Linked DNA regions of Homo sapiens: regions 1 and 3 are each linked to region 2. The links come from fine-mapping of genetic effects on gene expression. A gene starts in region 2. Each other region holds a variant in brackets. All regions are shown on one strand. Distances are between the middles of the regions.

Region 1 (5,479 bases), 36 kb before region 2:
AAATGGGATAATTCAGCTACTCTCTATTAAGCCAGACATTTAAGAGATTTCTTCACAGCTCTTCTCAAATACTTTGTTTTGGAATATATGTTTATTTCTCATGAAAGTATGTTATGGTGTTAAACATGAAATAGGCTTATTTTCAGTATTTTAAAATATATAAATACTTTAAAGTTTTTCTCTTCTAACATGATAAATGTTGCTAGATATAATTCACATAAGCAAAATCTCTGAGGTCCTCAATAGTTTATAAGAGTACAAAGTAATCCTAAGACCAAAAATTTTGAGAACCATTACTATATATTCACATATAATTACATATACAATTACTATATATATGATATATAGTATATATACAGACAAATCAGATCTTTGGTCAACCTAGTATTAGTTGATCCATTTTTCACCAAAAATTACCTTTTTGTAGTACCTTAAACCATTGTTTGAAATATAAATCCCACTCATTTTTCAGCAGCTAGAGAAACAGATACATTATGTACAGAGAAACAAAAATAAAGATGACAGATTTTTCATCAGAAAGAATGCAAGAAAATATTGCATCTATACAGTACTGAAGGAAATGAAACTAGCCTCAAATTCTTTTTTTTTTTTTTTTTTGAGACGGAGTCTCGCTCTGTCGCCCAGGCTGGAGTGCAGTGGCGGGATCTCGGCTCACTGCAAGCTCCGCCTCCCGGGTTCACGCCATTCTCCTGCCTCAGCCTCCCAAGTAGCTGGGACTACAGGCGCCCGCCACCACGCCCAGCTAATTTTTTGTATCTTTAGTAGAGACGGGGTTTCACCGTTTTAGCCGGGATGGTCTCGATCTCCTGACCTCGTGATCCGCCCGCCTTGGCCTCCCAAAGTGCTGGGATTACAGGCGTGAGCCACAGCGCCCGGCCGCCTCAAATTCTTTACCCAACGAAGATATCTTCAAAAAATGAAGGTGAAATAGGAACTTTCAGACATAAGCTGAAATATTACATTGCTAGTAGACCTCCACTGTAAGTGTTTAAAAAATTACAGAGTGATACCAATTAGAAATGTGAATCTAAAGAAACATCCATACACACACTCACACTCACACACACACTCACACACACACTCACAAGAAATGCCAACTACGTTGGCAAATGTATTAGTTTTCTCTTGGTGCTGCAACAAATTACCAAGAATTTAGTCATTTAAAAATACAGATTTATTATTTTATAGTACTACAGGCTCGAAGTTTAACATTTCATTGAGAAACATACGTGCGCGCACACACACACACACACACACACACACACCCAAGATGTCAGCAAGGTACATTCGTTTCTACTTCTTTGTCTTTTCTAGCTTCTAGAGGTCACTTACACTTTTTGGCTCATGGCCTCCTTTTTCCATCTTTATAAGTCAACAACATTATATTTCTGACCCTTTTTCCATAATGACCTCTCCCTCTGATTAGAGCTGGGAAAGTTTCTCTGCTGTTAAAAACATGCTGGAAAGATGCTCTGAGGACCCCTCAGAGACTGTTTTCGGTGTACGCGGGCACCCAAGTCCCCGGCCTCCTTGGCACTGGGCTTCGGCTGCGCACCTGGAAGGTGGCTCCCTGCCCTGGGGTTAGGTTTCAAATGCGTTGTCCAGGGAAATCCTCACCAAGGAGCGGACCTTCGAGTGAAGGCCCGAAGGATGGGAAGGAGCGAGTTGTGCAGCTTCAGAACTGGATAATGATATTCCAAAAGCAACCTGCCTCTCCACTGAAAGCAGTGACTGAAAGCAGAAGGCCCCTGTCATCACTCTTCCCTCAGAGTCAAGGGAAGAAACAGCCGCCCTTGGAGAGAGGACATTCGACTGTTGCTACCCAGGTTGCCACTTCAAAACTCTCCATGGCATGAAAGACTTGGACCGCTATCTCAGAATCCACAACGGGTGACGAACCGCTCAAGTGTGAGTTCTGTGACAAGTGCTTCAGCGGAAGGACAACCTGACCATGCACATGTGATGCCGCACGAGTGTTAC[C/T]TGTGTGACTATGCTGCCGTGGACAGCAGGAGCCTCAAGAAGCACCTACGGATCCACTCGGACGAGCAGCCATACAAATGCCAGCTCTGCCCCTATGTCAGCCGCAACTCCAGCCAGCTCACCGTCCACCTGCGATCCCACACTGGGGATATCTCCTTCCAGTGCTGGCTCTGTAGCGCCAAGTTCAAAATCAGCTCAGACTTGAAAAGGCACATGATCGTGCACTGGGGGAGAAGCCTTTCGAGTGCGAGTTCTGCAGCGACGTCCGCTGCACCATGAAGGCGAATCTCAAATCGCACATCCGCATCAAGCACACCTTCAAGTGTCTGCACTGTGCCTTCCAGGGCCAGGATGGGCTGACTTCCTGGAGCATAGCTGGCTGCACCAGGCCGACCACCCAGAGAAGTGTCCTGAGTGCAACTCCTGCTCCAGCGCAGCCGCCCTGTGCATACACAGCGGAGTCCACTGTAAGGACTGAAACTTCAAGTGTGACTTCTGCAGCTCCGACGCGAAGTGGCCCAGCAGCCTGGCCAAGCGCATCGACAGGGTGCACAAGGATGAGGCCAAGACAGAGAACTGGGCCTCTCCGGGCAAGGAAGGGCTCACAGAGCAGCTCCCGACACGTGGCCAAGATCGTGAGGCAGAGGGCCTTTCGCTGTGAGACCTGCGGCGCCGCCTTTGTCAGGGATGACTCTGAGATGCCACAAGCAGCAGCACAGTGATCAGAGTGAGAACAAGGACTCAGACTTGGTCGCCTTCCCACCTGCAAGCTGTGCCTCGGGACAGCTCAGCACCATGGTCTCCGTGGGGCAGCTCAAGCCTCCCCTGGAGCCCAGCCAAGACCTCTAGCTCAGAGGAAAAGGATCCTCAGCTGTCAAGATTTCTGACAAATGCTGTTGCCCACCCCTCCAAAAGATGAAGCCAGTGAGACAGGCTTTGGGCACCACTTCCAGGGCTGGCTGCTCCAATTTCACAGGCCTCCAGAGGCGATGGCTGAGATGACAATGATAAAAGCAAAGCAGTACTATGGAGACACTTCTTGCATTTGTGTCTTCCCTCCCAGGACAATCTGAGCAAGTCAACTTAGTCATTCAAACGTAGGGTCTGCTGAGCCCTGCTCTATCCAATGCGGATAGCTTCTATGTAACAGATTCCAATTTTTAAACTGATCCATCTCTGATGGAATTATTAAACTAGTTAGATGATATAGAAAACTAAAACTAATCTCTATAGTGGGACAGGTTAAAGTGAAGAAGGTGTACATGAAGAGTCTGGGATTGCTGGAAAACTTCTATTTCATAACCTGGATGATCGTTCTAAGAGTGTTTGCCTTATATGTTTGTGTGGTTTCTTCTACCTGTTGTCTTGCAATAAAAAGGCAGACTCATAGGTTAAAACAAAATCAAAAACAAAAAAACTCATGTGATTAGACTGGACCCACCTGGACAACCTAGGCTTCATCTAAATATCCATCTAAGTTTCCTTAACCTGAATCATGTCTGCAAAATCCCTTTTGTCAACTGAAATAACATACTCACAACTTCTAAAGATTCAGACATGGAAATCTTTGTGTGATATTTAATTTGCCTACCACAGATGTAGAAGAATTGAACATTGACAACAAACTTGTTATAAAACATTCCACTCAACAGCAGCAGCAGAATACACATTCTTTTTAAGAACACATGGAAAATTAACAAAGATCAGCCACGTTCGGGGGTATAAAACAAGTTTCAATACATTTTAAAGGATCCTAGGTGCTGGAGGTGGCCAAGATGGTTGACTAGAAGCAGGTAATATACGTAGCTCTCATGGAGAGGAACAGAAAGAGCAAGTAAATACAGCACCTTCAACTTAAACATCTAGTTACTCACATTGGGACTAATCAAGGAAGCAACTTGACCCATGGAGGATGGAGAAAAGTAAGGCAGGATGATGGCCCACCCAGGAGCAACATGGAGCCAAGGGAACCTCCCCCGACCCTGGGTAGTGGCACATGAATGTACAACCCCAGGAACCCATGCTTCTCCCATGGATCTTTGCAATCCTTGGGTCAGGAGATCTCCTTGTGAACCCACTCCACCAGGGCCTTCTGACTGACACACACAGCTACATGGAGTCTCAACAGAACAGCCACTCAGGCACATGTGGAGACCCAGGAAAGCCTTGATACTCGGACTCTCCAGACTTCCCAGCAAAAGTAGTTGCAACTCCAGCAAAGCGGGAGGTTTGACCTCTGTACATATCCTTAGGAAAAAGGCTGAATCCAGGGGGCTGAGCAGTGACAATCTGCAGGCCCCACTTCCACAAACCTCACAAGATGAAGACCCACTGGCTTAGAACTCCAGACAGCCACTGGTAGCAGCATTGCACCTCCCTGGGATAAAACTCCAGCAGGGAAGGGTGGGCTGCCATCTTTGCTGTTTGGGCAACTTAGCCGTTCCAGCCTCCAAGCTTTGGAGAGTCTAAGCTGACCAGGGGCGGAAGGGATGCCCCAGCACAGCTGCTTTATAAAACGTGGTCAGACTGCTCTTTTAAGCAGGTCCCCAATCCCTCCTCACTGGGCAGGATCACCAGAGCCTCCAGCCACCTGCGCCCATGTTCTCCAGCCAACAGAGATTTGGAGCCTCCCTGGGATGGAGCTCCCAGCGGGAGGGGTGGGCTGCTATCTTTGCTGTTTGGGTGATAGTATTTCTAGTCTTTAGGCTTTGGAGAGTCCAAGTCAACCTCTGACCAGGCAGAAGCAGTACCCCGGCACAGTACAGCTGCCCTGTGAAACATGGCCAGACTGCTTTTTTAAGCCGGTCCCCAATTCTGTTCCTCCTCACTGGGCAGGAATTCTCAACTGGGGCCTCCAGCCACCCCCACCAGTGCTGTCTGGCAAACACAGATTTGAAAACTTCCTGGGACAGAAATCCCAGAGGGAAGGGTGGGCCACCATCTTTACTGTTTGGGTAACTTAGCTATTCTAGCCTTTGGACTTTGGAGAGTCCAAGATGACCAGGGGCTGAAGTGGATCCCCAGCACAGCACAGCTGCCCTACCAAAACACAGCCAGACTGCTTTTTCAAGCAGGTCCCTGATCCTACTCCTGATCACCAGGAAGGGTCTGAAGCTATCCCCACGAGTGTTCTTCAGCTGAGAGAAGTTTCAAGCCTCCCCAGGCTGGAGCTCCCAGATGGAGGTGCAGGCCATCATCTTCGCTGTTTGGGTCACTTAGCTATTCTGGCCTTTGAGCTTTGGAGTGTCCGGCACTGAAGGAGACCCCCAGCACAGCACAACCGCTCTACCAAAATGTAGCCAGATTGCCTCTGAAACAGGGTTTCACTCCCATTGCCCAAACTGAGCAATGGCTCTATCTCAGCTCACTGCAACCTCTGCCTCTTGGGCTCAAGTGATTCTCCTGTCGTAGCCTCCCAAGTAGCTAAACTATAGACACACCACCATGCCTGTCTAATTTTTGCATTTTTTGTTGTAGA
Region 2 (5,479 bases):
TAAGAACTCAGAATGCTATGAGGTTAGCCCAGGGTCATACCTTATAGGCTCCACTAAAATAAATTTTAATACTAAATTAATTTTTTAAAAAAGTTGTTAAAACATGAGAAGCTCCCTAATTGCCAGTTTTCTCCACTAAGAATGTAACTGTAAGGGGAAAAAAAAAATCTCTATTATGGAATGCAGTATTAGCATTATTGAAGGCAATGTCTGGAGAATTACAGCTCCGTAGAACTACAGCAAATCTGAATTCCTTAATAAAAATTCTCAGAAGTCAAGGAATTTCTAGAAAACAAACATGAATTCAAAGCTTTTAGATTTAAGGATTCAAATTCAAAGTTCACATATTTGTTGTGCATTGCTATAGCTAATGCTGCCTGCACATTGTTGATTCTGGAATGTACCCTCCTTGATAAAAAGGCAAATTAGTTGTCTTAAATAGAGCACCTAATTAAGGCTTTCTCTCTGCTATAATCCACAGAAATTAAATAGCATTGTAAAAGGGAGTACTCTCTAAGGAACACAGACGGCTTTCAAAACAACTGTTAGAAACAGTCTGGACTCACATTAGTGGGATTCTGAATGTTCCGTAGCAGTAAAGAGCCCCAAACGGAAATTGAGGCTGGCCTGGTGGCTCACGCCTACAATTGCAGCACTTTGGGAGGCCGAGGCGGGCAGATCACTTGAGGCCAGGAGTTCGGGACCAGCCTGGCCAACATGATGAAATCCAGTCTCTACTAAAAATACAAAAAATAGCCAGGTGTGGTGGCGGGCGCTTGTAATCCTAGCTAGTCAGGAGGCCAAGGTAGGAGGATCGCTTGAACCTGAGAGGCAGCAGTTGCAGTGAGCTGAGATAGTGCTACTGCACTCCTGCCTGAGGGATAGAGCAAGACTCTGCCTCAGGGGGGAAAAAAAGGGAATTGAAAACTCCAGTTCTGATGCTATTCTGTCATTAACCAGGAATGTAATCTGAGACAAAACACTTAATTTTTCTCGTTCCTTTTTGATGTTGATGAGGTGAGCCTAGGCAATCTCAGAATTCTTTTTCAACTATAAAATTCTAGGATTCTTTCCTCCGCACATGTGAAAGGTGTCCCCGTACTTCAGGCTCTGGGAAAACTCCAGGTGTGAAGAGTTGCCTTTATTAACAAGATGCTAATATCCTTTTGTCCTTCTCTGAGGTAAGCCTTAGGCAGAAACCTGGCACTTCTTTGGCTCCCCCTTCCTCCTTCAGCTCCCGCCTTCATACCCTGATGTGTAACAAAACCCCATTGTGCTCTCACTTAAGTTTCATCACTCTTTCTTCTCCCTGCACACTATCAACGCTTTAGGACTCGTCCTTATTTCTGAACCACAGGAACAAGTAACTGTTTTTCTAATGTTTCTCTCAGAGTACACTCTGCTTCTAGTGAGTTCCAATTCTGTTTATTAAGATTTTCATACCCATGGCAGTGATTGATACTCCCACACTCCATATTCAATGTCAGCAAATTTGGTTGGCTTTCTTTAAAATATGTCTAAAATATGTCCACTTACCTCTCCACCTATTATTGCCTGGGTCCAAGCCAGCAATAACTTCTGACTGATCTCCCTTTTGCCCTTAGCTCCATTGTCTACTCTCCACACAGCATCCAAAGCAGTCCTATGAAAACATTAACTCAGATCATGTCACTCCTCTGCTCAAAGTAACATTCCTTACAATGGCCTACAAAGCCCTAGGTGCCGTGGCTATTGTTACTCTCTAACTGCATTCCCCATTCGTCTCCCCGTCTTTTCCAGTACATAAACCCTCTTACTGTTCCTCCAATCTGCCAGGAACATGGCCACTTGCAGCGACTTTGCACTTGCTGTTCTTTCTGCCTGGAATATTGTTCCTCCAGTTAGCTGCATGGCCAATTTCCTCACTCTGTCACTTAACTCCAATGTCACCTCCTCATGAGCCTTCTCTGGTCCCTCTATTACCCTCTCAAAAATTGTGAGTCCTCTCTTATTTTCACTTCATCACTTATCACTATCTAACATAGTATGTTTTGCTTATTTTTTGTCATTTTTTTCTCTTTCCCATGACAGTAGGGATTTTTGTCTGTTTTGCTTATTGCTCTATCACAAACGACTAGCGCAGTGGGTAATGAGTATTTCCTGGTTAATGAATGAATTGTGGGAGATCTGCACCAAGGGAACATATGGAGACAGACACTAGATCAAATGTCTCCTTTGTTTGCTCATGGTAAAACATTTGACCATCTTCTTAATCTTACGTGGTAAAAAATTCCATGTCTTTTGTTAATTGTGATATATGTCTTAGATCTCTTGTGAGATGTTTTAGATCTCAGGGAAAGCATTCCTCATTATTAAAGCATTAATTTGGTCACTAGGGGATGAATCCAATCTTATTTTCCAAATGTTATCCTGTACATTTGGCAGTCTTGCTAAGTTATATAGAAGGAAGTAGAGTCTATTATTTTAGATAGAAAATTCCCGGTCCCGACTCGCAGTGGTCAAAGTCTTCAAAATTCTAAGATCATAACACATAACGTCAGGAGGAAATATGTGGCTATTAATCATACTAATGATAGTGATGATGCAATAAAATAATTGTAATATGCTAACACCAATTGTATCTTAAAAAGAGGTACTGGAAATTCCATCTTGCATTCTTCCGTTTTTTCCTGTTATAGAAAAACGCACTCCCTGATACTCAGTAGAGGATCAACTTATTTCTAGTTAATCAGCATGAACGTTTCCAGCAGAATAGATGCTTTGGTGTAGCACTTGCCTGGGAGTCATGGTTAGCATTCCGCATTTTTTAGAGAGCTGAATTCAGCAGCCTAGGAAACATTAGGAAGAACACCTTCAAACAGGGAACAACGTCTTGGGGGGAAAGAGAGTCACTGCCTCCGCTAGGGATCCCGAGGGGGTACAAAAGCAACAACAATAAAAACTCGTGGAGAGTAGGTTCCACGACATGCGCATGCGACGAACTCCCGCACTCAGCGGGGCAGGTTTCGTCCTTCATCTTCTCAGTCGGCAGGACCTGCTTCTCGCTGAGGATGAGTGAGGACAGCCGCAGCTCGGCGGGGACGGCCCGGTAGCCTAGAGCGCCGGCACCCGAGTCCCGCCGCCGGAGCCGCGCCTGGAGCCGCGGTGGGGGAGGGGCAGCGGCGGCCCGCGCTGCGTCGAGCTTCCCAGAATTCCCAGCGGCCGCGGGGAAAGTTTACGGGATGTAGGCGGCGGCGGCGGTAGTGGTAGCGGTTATTCGGCGGCCCGCGGCGGACCATGGCCCTGGCCCTGGCCCGGCGTCGCTGGGCTTTCCTCACGGCGTCCCCGAGCAGCGTCGCAGAGCGGGCCGACTTCCGGGAAGGAACTGACCAGCGACTGAGCGGCGGCCGGCGCGCTTAGCGCCCTGAACATGCGGCAGTCCCTGCGGGCGACCCCGGGCTCCGGACAGGCGGCGGCGGAGGCGGCGGCTCGGGAGGGAAGGAGGCGGCGGCGCCGGCGGAGGTGGCGGCGGAGACGGCCGGCGCCCGGCGCGGAGCCCTAGGGAGGCAGTTCAGCGCGGCCTCGGGCCTCGTCGAGAAGGATGCTGTCCCGAAAGAAAACCAAAAACGAAGTGTCCAAGCCGGCCGAGGTGCAGGGGAAGTACGTGAAGAAGGAGACGTCGCCTCTGCTTCGGAGTGAGTGTCAGGCGGGGCGTGCCCACACCTGGCCCAGGCGGCCAGGTGCTCCGGGGACCCTGGCGGGGGCGCCGGCGGGTCTCCAGGGCTTCTCCTTCGTCCTTGGTCGCGTGAAATACTGGTTTTGAGATTTTCTTGTGTCTGAAGTGGTATTCGTTGATTGAAAGCCCATAAGAGTAAGAAACTTGGGTTAGTCCCCCCCGCGCCTAACCCCCCCAAGAGCACCCCCTAAAAATAACAGACTTCCTCGCCCCACCAGGCAGAGTTGTTGGTTTTGATTACTGGAAGAGAGAGTAGGAAACATTTAAATTGCTTATCACCTAATGCTATAGGAGTAAAAGTAATTAGACAGGGACACTTTTTACTCTTTTAGATGCGTCGAGATGTGCGTCATGTTTGCAAACATTGCGGGTGTCTCTCGACTGTGCTGCAAGTTGTGCGAACTCTGGGGCAGAATTCCTTAGTCCTGCTGCCGGATGCAGACTTGAGAAGGTGAAAAGCATACCGTCGTTCTTGTAGCCGCCACCCAAAGCCTCATCACTCTTACACAGCAGAGCAGAGAGCCAAAAGCCTTTGTATTTGGCTATATTCGTGAGATTCCAAGAAGGCAACTCAAAATAATTTCTATCGTATTAGAGAACCCCCCCCTCGAAAAGTTTTTTTTTTTAATAGGGTAGATCCCACTCCCAATCCCCACCTCCGGTCCCCCGCTGCTTTTCTTCTTAATGTAAGTATTTGATTTTTGAGTTGAATCTCTTGAATTTTTAATTCTTGTGTGTTCAGGACATTTGTGAGGCATGGAGCTGGTATTTTGGTGCTCTTACTGCGCCCTGGGCCCTTTGCTTAAGTTTCCTTCTTGGAAGCTGGTAGTAACCTTGTGACTTAAGTATTACCTCATATTGTAATTGGGAAAGTTAGGTTTCTAGTATTTGCCCAAGATCACACAGATGGGAGAGCATGTTTTTCCATCATAACCACATTGTCAGCCTTCCAGATTTATGGTGGTACTTGCAATACTTTCAACAAAATATATGTCAGTTGAGTACATCAGTAACTCGAAACTTGATTTTTAAGTTGTTTTTTTTTTTTTTTAACAACTTGATTTTCAGTCACACATGCAGTTAGGTTTCTGGCTGTTTTTAAGTGATAGCTTGCTGTTTGCTGCAAATAAAGTTTATCAGACATTACTTGAAATCGTGAATTATGTTTGTCACACTTTTTATTATACTTTAAGTTCTGGGGTACATGTGTAGAACGTGCAGTTTTGTTAATGTTTGTCACAGTTAAGCAAATAACTTTTGATCTACTTTGTTTTGTTGTCGTTACATCAAGTGTTGAGCCTTATTTATTCAGATATTTGTTTCTGTCCAGTGTTAGTTTCTGAAGCTTATTAATATGAGTGTCTCCAATATTGTTTACTTGATGAATAATAAGAGGGTCTGCATATTCAGGTTTTTGTCTTGTTTTAAAGGTATTTGCTTTCTAACTGGGAATGTCTTAAGCTGTTTTCAAGTTTCGTGTTTAAAAGTACTGTATCCTAAAAGCTGTTGTTCTATTATCTACTATTTTGAATTATAATTACATAGTTTCAGGCTTGGTTTTTTGAGCCACTTCTACATTTGTGTGCTTCTTTGAAATGAGAGCTTTTTATTTTCAATTTTCATACATAAATTTTTGGCTTTCTAGCTTTTGATTACTGTGCTAGTGCTAGGTAATTCCAAGAGAAGAAAGAGCTACTAATTTTTTAATTTTTAAAGGAATCCACTTTTACATATTTGGGAGTAGCATTAAGTTCTATTTTTGAA
Region 3 (5,479 bases), 170 kb after region 2:
ACTTAGTATCAACTATCAATAGGCTAAGTCATATTATCAAAAAGATTTTCCCGTATTAGGAATATTATAATTTAAATCCATAAATTGATTATTCTTCTCAAACCTGCTTTTCTTCTGCATTTTGCTAAGCAGTTAACCCATCCACAAATGTAGGCATTAACCTCGATTTCTCTCTTTTATTTGTGCTCAAGAATCAGTCTGTCAGCAAGTTCCCTCAGCTCTACCTCCAGAACACATCCTGAATCCATCTACTTGTCTTTGTTACCCATCTCCACCCTTCTAGTGCCTGTTGCCTTGCCCACACCTCCCATTCCCCACCATCTATTTTCCAGAAAGCCTCTGGAGTGAACTTTTAAAAACATAAATCATATCATCACTTCTGCTTAACACTTCCCTGAAGCTTTCATATCAACTTAGAAAAATACTCAGATTTTTAGCCTTGTTTATAAAACCCTACATGATCTGTTCTATCCACCTCTCTGAGCTCATCGCATATGTTTCTGCCTACTCTACTATGCCTCTGTTTTCTTTTTATTTAAACAGTCCAAGATTAAAGCAATTCTTCCCTTTTGCCTGAGGTAACTGTTTTTCAAGATCTTTGCTCTGAAGGCTCCTGGTCATTCAGACCTCAGCTTAAATAAATATCATATCCTCGGAGAGGCCAATGCCCTTGTTATTTTAGTTCGCTGCATAGGACACGTGAGTGCCTGATACTTTTCTTGTTTGTTTATATGTATACGTGTATATATTGTGTTTGTCTCTCTCCTAGAATGTAAGATCAATGAGAATAGCGATTATCTATCCTCACTGCTATATTTCACCACTTGGGACAGTGTAAGCATGTAACGGACACTGCAATAAATATTCCTCCTATAAAAGAATATTACAGATGTCTTTCTGTTGCCTTTGAATGAGAATGACGATTTGACTAGGTATAAAATGATTGCATCACACGTTCTTCTCCCTCTACCCTCAAAAAACTCTATAGACATTTTTTTCCCTTGAATATTGTTGGAAAGAAATGTAAGGCCTAACTGATATTTTTCCCCTGGTAGATAACTTGCTGTTACTACCTGATTGTAGCAAAAGCTGGCATTTCTTTCTTTGTCTTCAAAATTAGTAATCTCAACAGAATATAACTTGGTCTCAATAATTTTCTACAGATTTTTCTCCCTGAGACACAATGAGCTGCTTTTTTCATCTGCAGTTTTGATTTTTTCTTTATTTCAAGAAACTTTGTTTTAAGATTCTTGAATTTATTTCATTACTTTGGAAAGTAATGAATTTTTAAAGTCTTCCATATCAGTGACTTTTTTTTTTTTTTAAACAGGGTCTCTTTCTGTTGCCCAGGCTGGAGTGCAGTGGCACAATCTGGGCTCACTGCAACCTTTGCCAACCGGGTTCAAGTGATTCTCGTGCCTCAGCCTCCTGAGTAGCTGGAATTACAGGCATGTGCCACCACACCCAGCTAATTTTTGTATTTTTAGTAGAGACAGAGTTTCGCCATGTTGTCCAGGTTGGTCTTGGACTCCTGGCCTCAAGTGATCTGCCCGTCTAGGCCTCCCAAAGTGCTGGGATTACAGATGTGAACCACCATGCCTGGCCCCCAATACTGCTTCTATTCCTTGTTGGTTCCAATGTTTTTATTAGTTCTATATAAGTATTATTTTTACACAGCTTTCCCCCCTTAACTCTACCAGCATTCTTTCTGTTTCATTTTGTTGCCTTAATTTTCCTGTACTCTTTTTTCCCCCTTTCATATCCCTGAGAGTTTGAAGCACTGTTGTCTTAAATTTTCTTTCAAAACAAATTCTTCGTATCTTCAGCATCCTGTATTTGTCTTTTTTTTTTTGCTGTGGAATTTTTGTGGAAAATCAGTGGACTTTTAGCATTGTCAGTAAAGCCAAAGTAGATGGTATTTTTCACATTTTTGGAACAGACTTAAGGGTATCTTTAGGTTAAAAATATGATGGTATGCTAATGAATTTTCCCAACATTCAGTTCAGATACTTCAAATAATTTTGGAGACTGCTGTATTTCAAAAATGAATTCTCAACTGTATTTAGCAGCTTTCAAAAACTTGCACTAAAGCCAGCATAATACAAAAGTGCTTTCTTGTATTGATTTAACAGATGAACTGGTTTAAAATTGTATTTAGACATGAAAAGATAATTATTTGCCAGTGTGACTTAGAAAAAAACTTATGTCTGGTAATACATAAACAAAAATTTTTTTAAGTAAATGAAATTCCAG[C/T]TGTAAACTTAACATGCTTTTCTCCATGGTGAAAAATAGGATATTAAAGTTTATAGTAATTTTAGAGTCCTAAATTGTATTTACTGACTTGCCCCTGGCAATTTAATTTTATAATGCTATATTCAAAATTTTGCTGAAACAGATTGCTTTTGAAGGTCTTCCTAATAGTCAAAAAAATGCTACAGTAAGCCTTAGAGTTGAAAATAGGTTAGCACAGAAAATCGCGTTTATTAATTAGCCACAAAAATATTTGTAAAAGAAAATGAAGTCAGCATTCCTTCCTATGTTTGTATGTTCTTGTTGCTCTTTGTATATATAGGCAAAATGATTATTTTCAGGAATGATTTAACCATTTCTATCTCATTTTTATAGTAGATACTTACTAAAGTCACCACCTTACAAATGGTAACATTAAATAGAGTTTGACTTACCAGTGATTAGCATTGAAAATAATACCACCAGTGATACCATTGTGAGTTTTAGTTGCATTTTTCATCTCTTTGATTAGACATCCAGAGTGCCCTATAAGCCCAGGCAGATACTGTGATGGTTCATGCCACCATGTTTTCCTGTCTTCTGTCTGAATTTCAGCCTACCATCTAACTCATTTTACAGATGCTCAGTTTGCCCAACAAGTCTGTAGCTATTGGTGGCCAACAGCCAGAGCAGGAACAAAGTTTGTGGGAAAACTTACCATCAGAATCCTACTTTCCCTTCCCTCTCTCCTCCTTCCATTACCCCTCTTTTATGGCAAAACTACAAAATAATATTTTAAGCTTATGAAAATTACAGTTTATTTAAATATTTTCGGCCTTGCTTACAGGGATGTAATTTAATACATCACTACCCAGGATGATTAATGCAATACCCTTTTGGTTTGTTCCCTTGCTTGTCTTTTAAAACGGTAAATCGGAAATACTTATAAAATAGTTTAGTATTTTTTAATAAAATAAGTTAAATGTGTTTCTTTAGACAGTTTTTGAAATAAATAGGAATCTTTAAATATCTTTGAATAGATGTTTAAAGCTTTCCTTGGACTTGCAGGGAATACTTTAACTTGTTTCCTGAAAGTATAAGCAGAGAAGGTAGTGTAAGTGTTAAAAAGTCAGGAACTATACGGAGGTTTAAACCAGCCATTAGTTTGCCTTGTTCTTGAAAGAACTTGGCAAAGTTCTTGAAAGAAATCCCAGGGTAGGCTGTTTGGCCAAATAGGACAAGTGTCATCTATTCAGGTTACGTGGTATGTTCTTTTCAGACTTTCTATTCAAAAACCTAACAATCTTGATTTTTAAAAATATTCTGTAAAGTAAAATATTTGTATCCTGTCTTCACTGTTTGGACAGTTCAAGTCTGAATTAATGGAAAATGTTAATTTGAAGGCACAAATACATGCCCCAAATGTCATTTTATTGGTTTTAAATAATAGATACAGAAAATGAATAAAGGTTAGTGTTGTTTACTAATGTCTTCTGTTTAACATTGTACATTCATTATGCTCAATGGAAAAAAACCATATTTACTTATTATGAACCAAAACAACCATATTCACAAGATTGCCACCATTGTGTCACTGTATTTTTCATAGTTATTTAAAAATTAGCTGATTGAATATTTAGCATTGGATTGATTTTCTGAAAAAGTACTGCTAATTTATTCACTGTATAATGAACTACCGCTAAAATTAGTTTTCGTTTTGATAACTATCTTTAACATTATTTCATAAACTTCAGAAATGTATCTAGTACTTACTAATACAGAAAACTTTTGCCATTGCAAATATTAATTAAGAGATCTAATTTTTACATTGTAATTTTGCTCTAAATGATATACAAATTTTTAGGTTACTGCATATTTATTTTAAATACTTGTTTTAAAAGTTTTTATTTTTATTTTTATTTTTATTTTTATTTTTTTGGTCTGGGAGCGGTGGTTCACACCTGTTGTAGTCTCAGCACTTTGGGAGGCTGAGGTGGGAGGATCTTTTGAGCCCAGGAGTTCAAGACCAGCCTGGGCAACATGATAAGACCCAGTCTTTACAAAAATTTTTAAAAATTAGCAGAGCACGGCAGCCTGCTTCTGTAGTCCCAGCTACTCAGGACACTGAGGCAGGAGGATCACTTGAGCCCAGGAGGTTGAGGCTTCAATGAACCATGTTCACATCACTGCGTTGCACCATGGGCAACAGAATGAAATCCTGTCCCAAAAAAGAAAGAAAGAAATATATATATAATAATATATGTGTGTGTGTATATATATATTCATTTAAACATCCAGCTGTAGTGAAATGATTAAATTAGGCTATGCTCACATCATTTTAATATTTTTAAAATTTCAGTAAAAAACACATAAACTTTACCATCTTAACCATTTTTGTTTTTTTGCTTTTTGTTTTGTTTTTGTTGAGTTGGAGTCTTGCTCTTGGCACCCCGGGTGGAGTGCAATGGCACAATCTTGGCTCACTGCAACCTCCACCTCCCGGGATCAAGCCATTCTCCTGCCTCAGCCTCCCGAGTACCTGGGATTACAGGCTCCCACCACGACACCCGACTAATTTTTTATGTTTTTGGTAGAGACAGGGTTTCACCATGTTGGCCAGGCTGGTCTTGAACTCCTGACCTCAGATGATCCACCTGCCTCGGCCTCCAAAAGTGCTGGGATTACAGATGTGAGCCACCATGCCCAGCTGTCTTTACCATTTTTAAGTGCATCTTTTAGTAGTTTTAACTATATTTGCGTTGTTGTGAAATAGTTGTCTAGAATTTTTCATCTTGCAAAACTAAAACTCTATATTCATTAAACAACAACAACTCTTTGCTGCCTCCCCACAGCCACTAGTAACCACCATTCTACTGTTGGTATCTATGAATTTGGCTCCTTTAGATACTTTATATAAGTGGAATCATACAGTATTTGTCCTTTTCTGACTAGGCTGTTTCACTTAGCATAATGTTCTCAAGGTTCATCTATGTTATAGCATATGACAGGATTTCCTTCCTTTTTAAGTCTGCATGGTTTTCATATACTACAGTTTTATTCATTCATCTGTCAATAGACATTCTGTCAAACTGGGTTGCCTCTACCTCTTGGCTATTGTAAATAGTGCTGCTATGAACATGGGTGTACAAATCTCTCTTTGAGATCCTATTTTCAGTTCTTTTGGATATAAACCTAAAAGCATGAATTGGTCATATGATAGTTCCACCTTTAATTTGTTGAGAAATACTGT

Which allele goes with the higher level. Alleles are on the strand shown, and positions count from the first base shown. SD is a standard deviation of normalised expression in the study named. Not every link is listed here.
For the expression in thyroid of the gene that starts at base 3,242 in region 2, C is the low allele of the variant in region 1 and T is the other (small effect, 0.23 SD a copy in GTEx).

Evidence for each region. PIP is the estimated chance that this variant, and not a neighbour inherited with it, causes the effect. A credible set is the group of variants that fine-mapping cannot tell apart.
Region 1: its variant is the best candidate, but not a certain one, in a credible set for the expression of SAV1 in thyroid (GTEx, PIP 0.86).
Region 3: its variant is the best candidate, but not a certain one, in a credible set for the expression of SAV1 in regulatory T cells (Bossini-Castillo 2019, PIP 0.68).

The regions. Positions count from the first base shown.
Region 1 is chr14:50,701,727-50,707,205 of GRCh38, reverse strand. It overlaps the pseudogene ZFP64P1. Among named protein-coding and RNA genes, the nearest start is that of SAV1, 36 kb to the right of the region's middle. The variant C/T (reference allele first, on the strand shown) is at 2,002.
Region 2 is chr14:50,666,069-50,671,547 of GRCh38, reverse strand. It overlaps SAV1 (salvador family WW domain containing protein 1), which reads left to right and starts at 3,242. Exons shown (of 5, transcript NM_021818.4): 1 at 3,242-3,674. The coding sequence starts at 3,581. RefSeq lists silencers at 3,005-3,574, 3,685-3,814 and an enhancer at 4,175-4,244.
Region 3 is chr14:50,495,502-50,500,980 of GRCh38, reverse strand. The region is part of intron 3 of MAP4K5 (mitogen-activated protein kinase kinase kinase kinase 5); the gene reads left to right. Among named protein-coding and RNA genes, the nearest start is that of MAP4K5, 34 kb to the left of the region's middle. The variant C/T (reference allele first, on the strand shown) is at 2,254.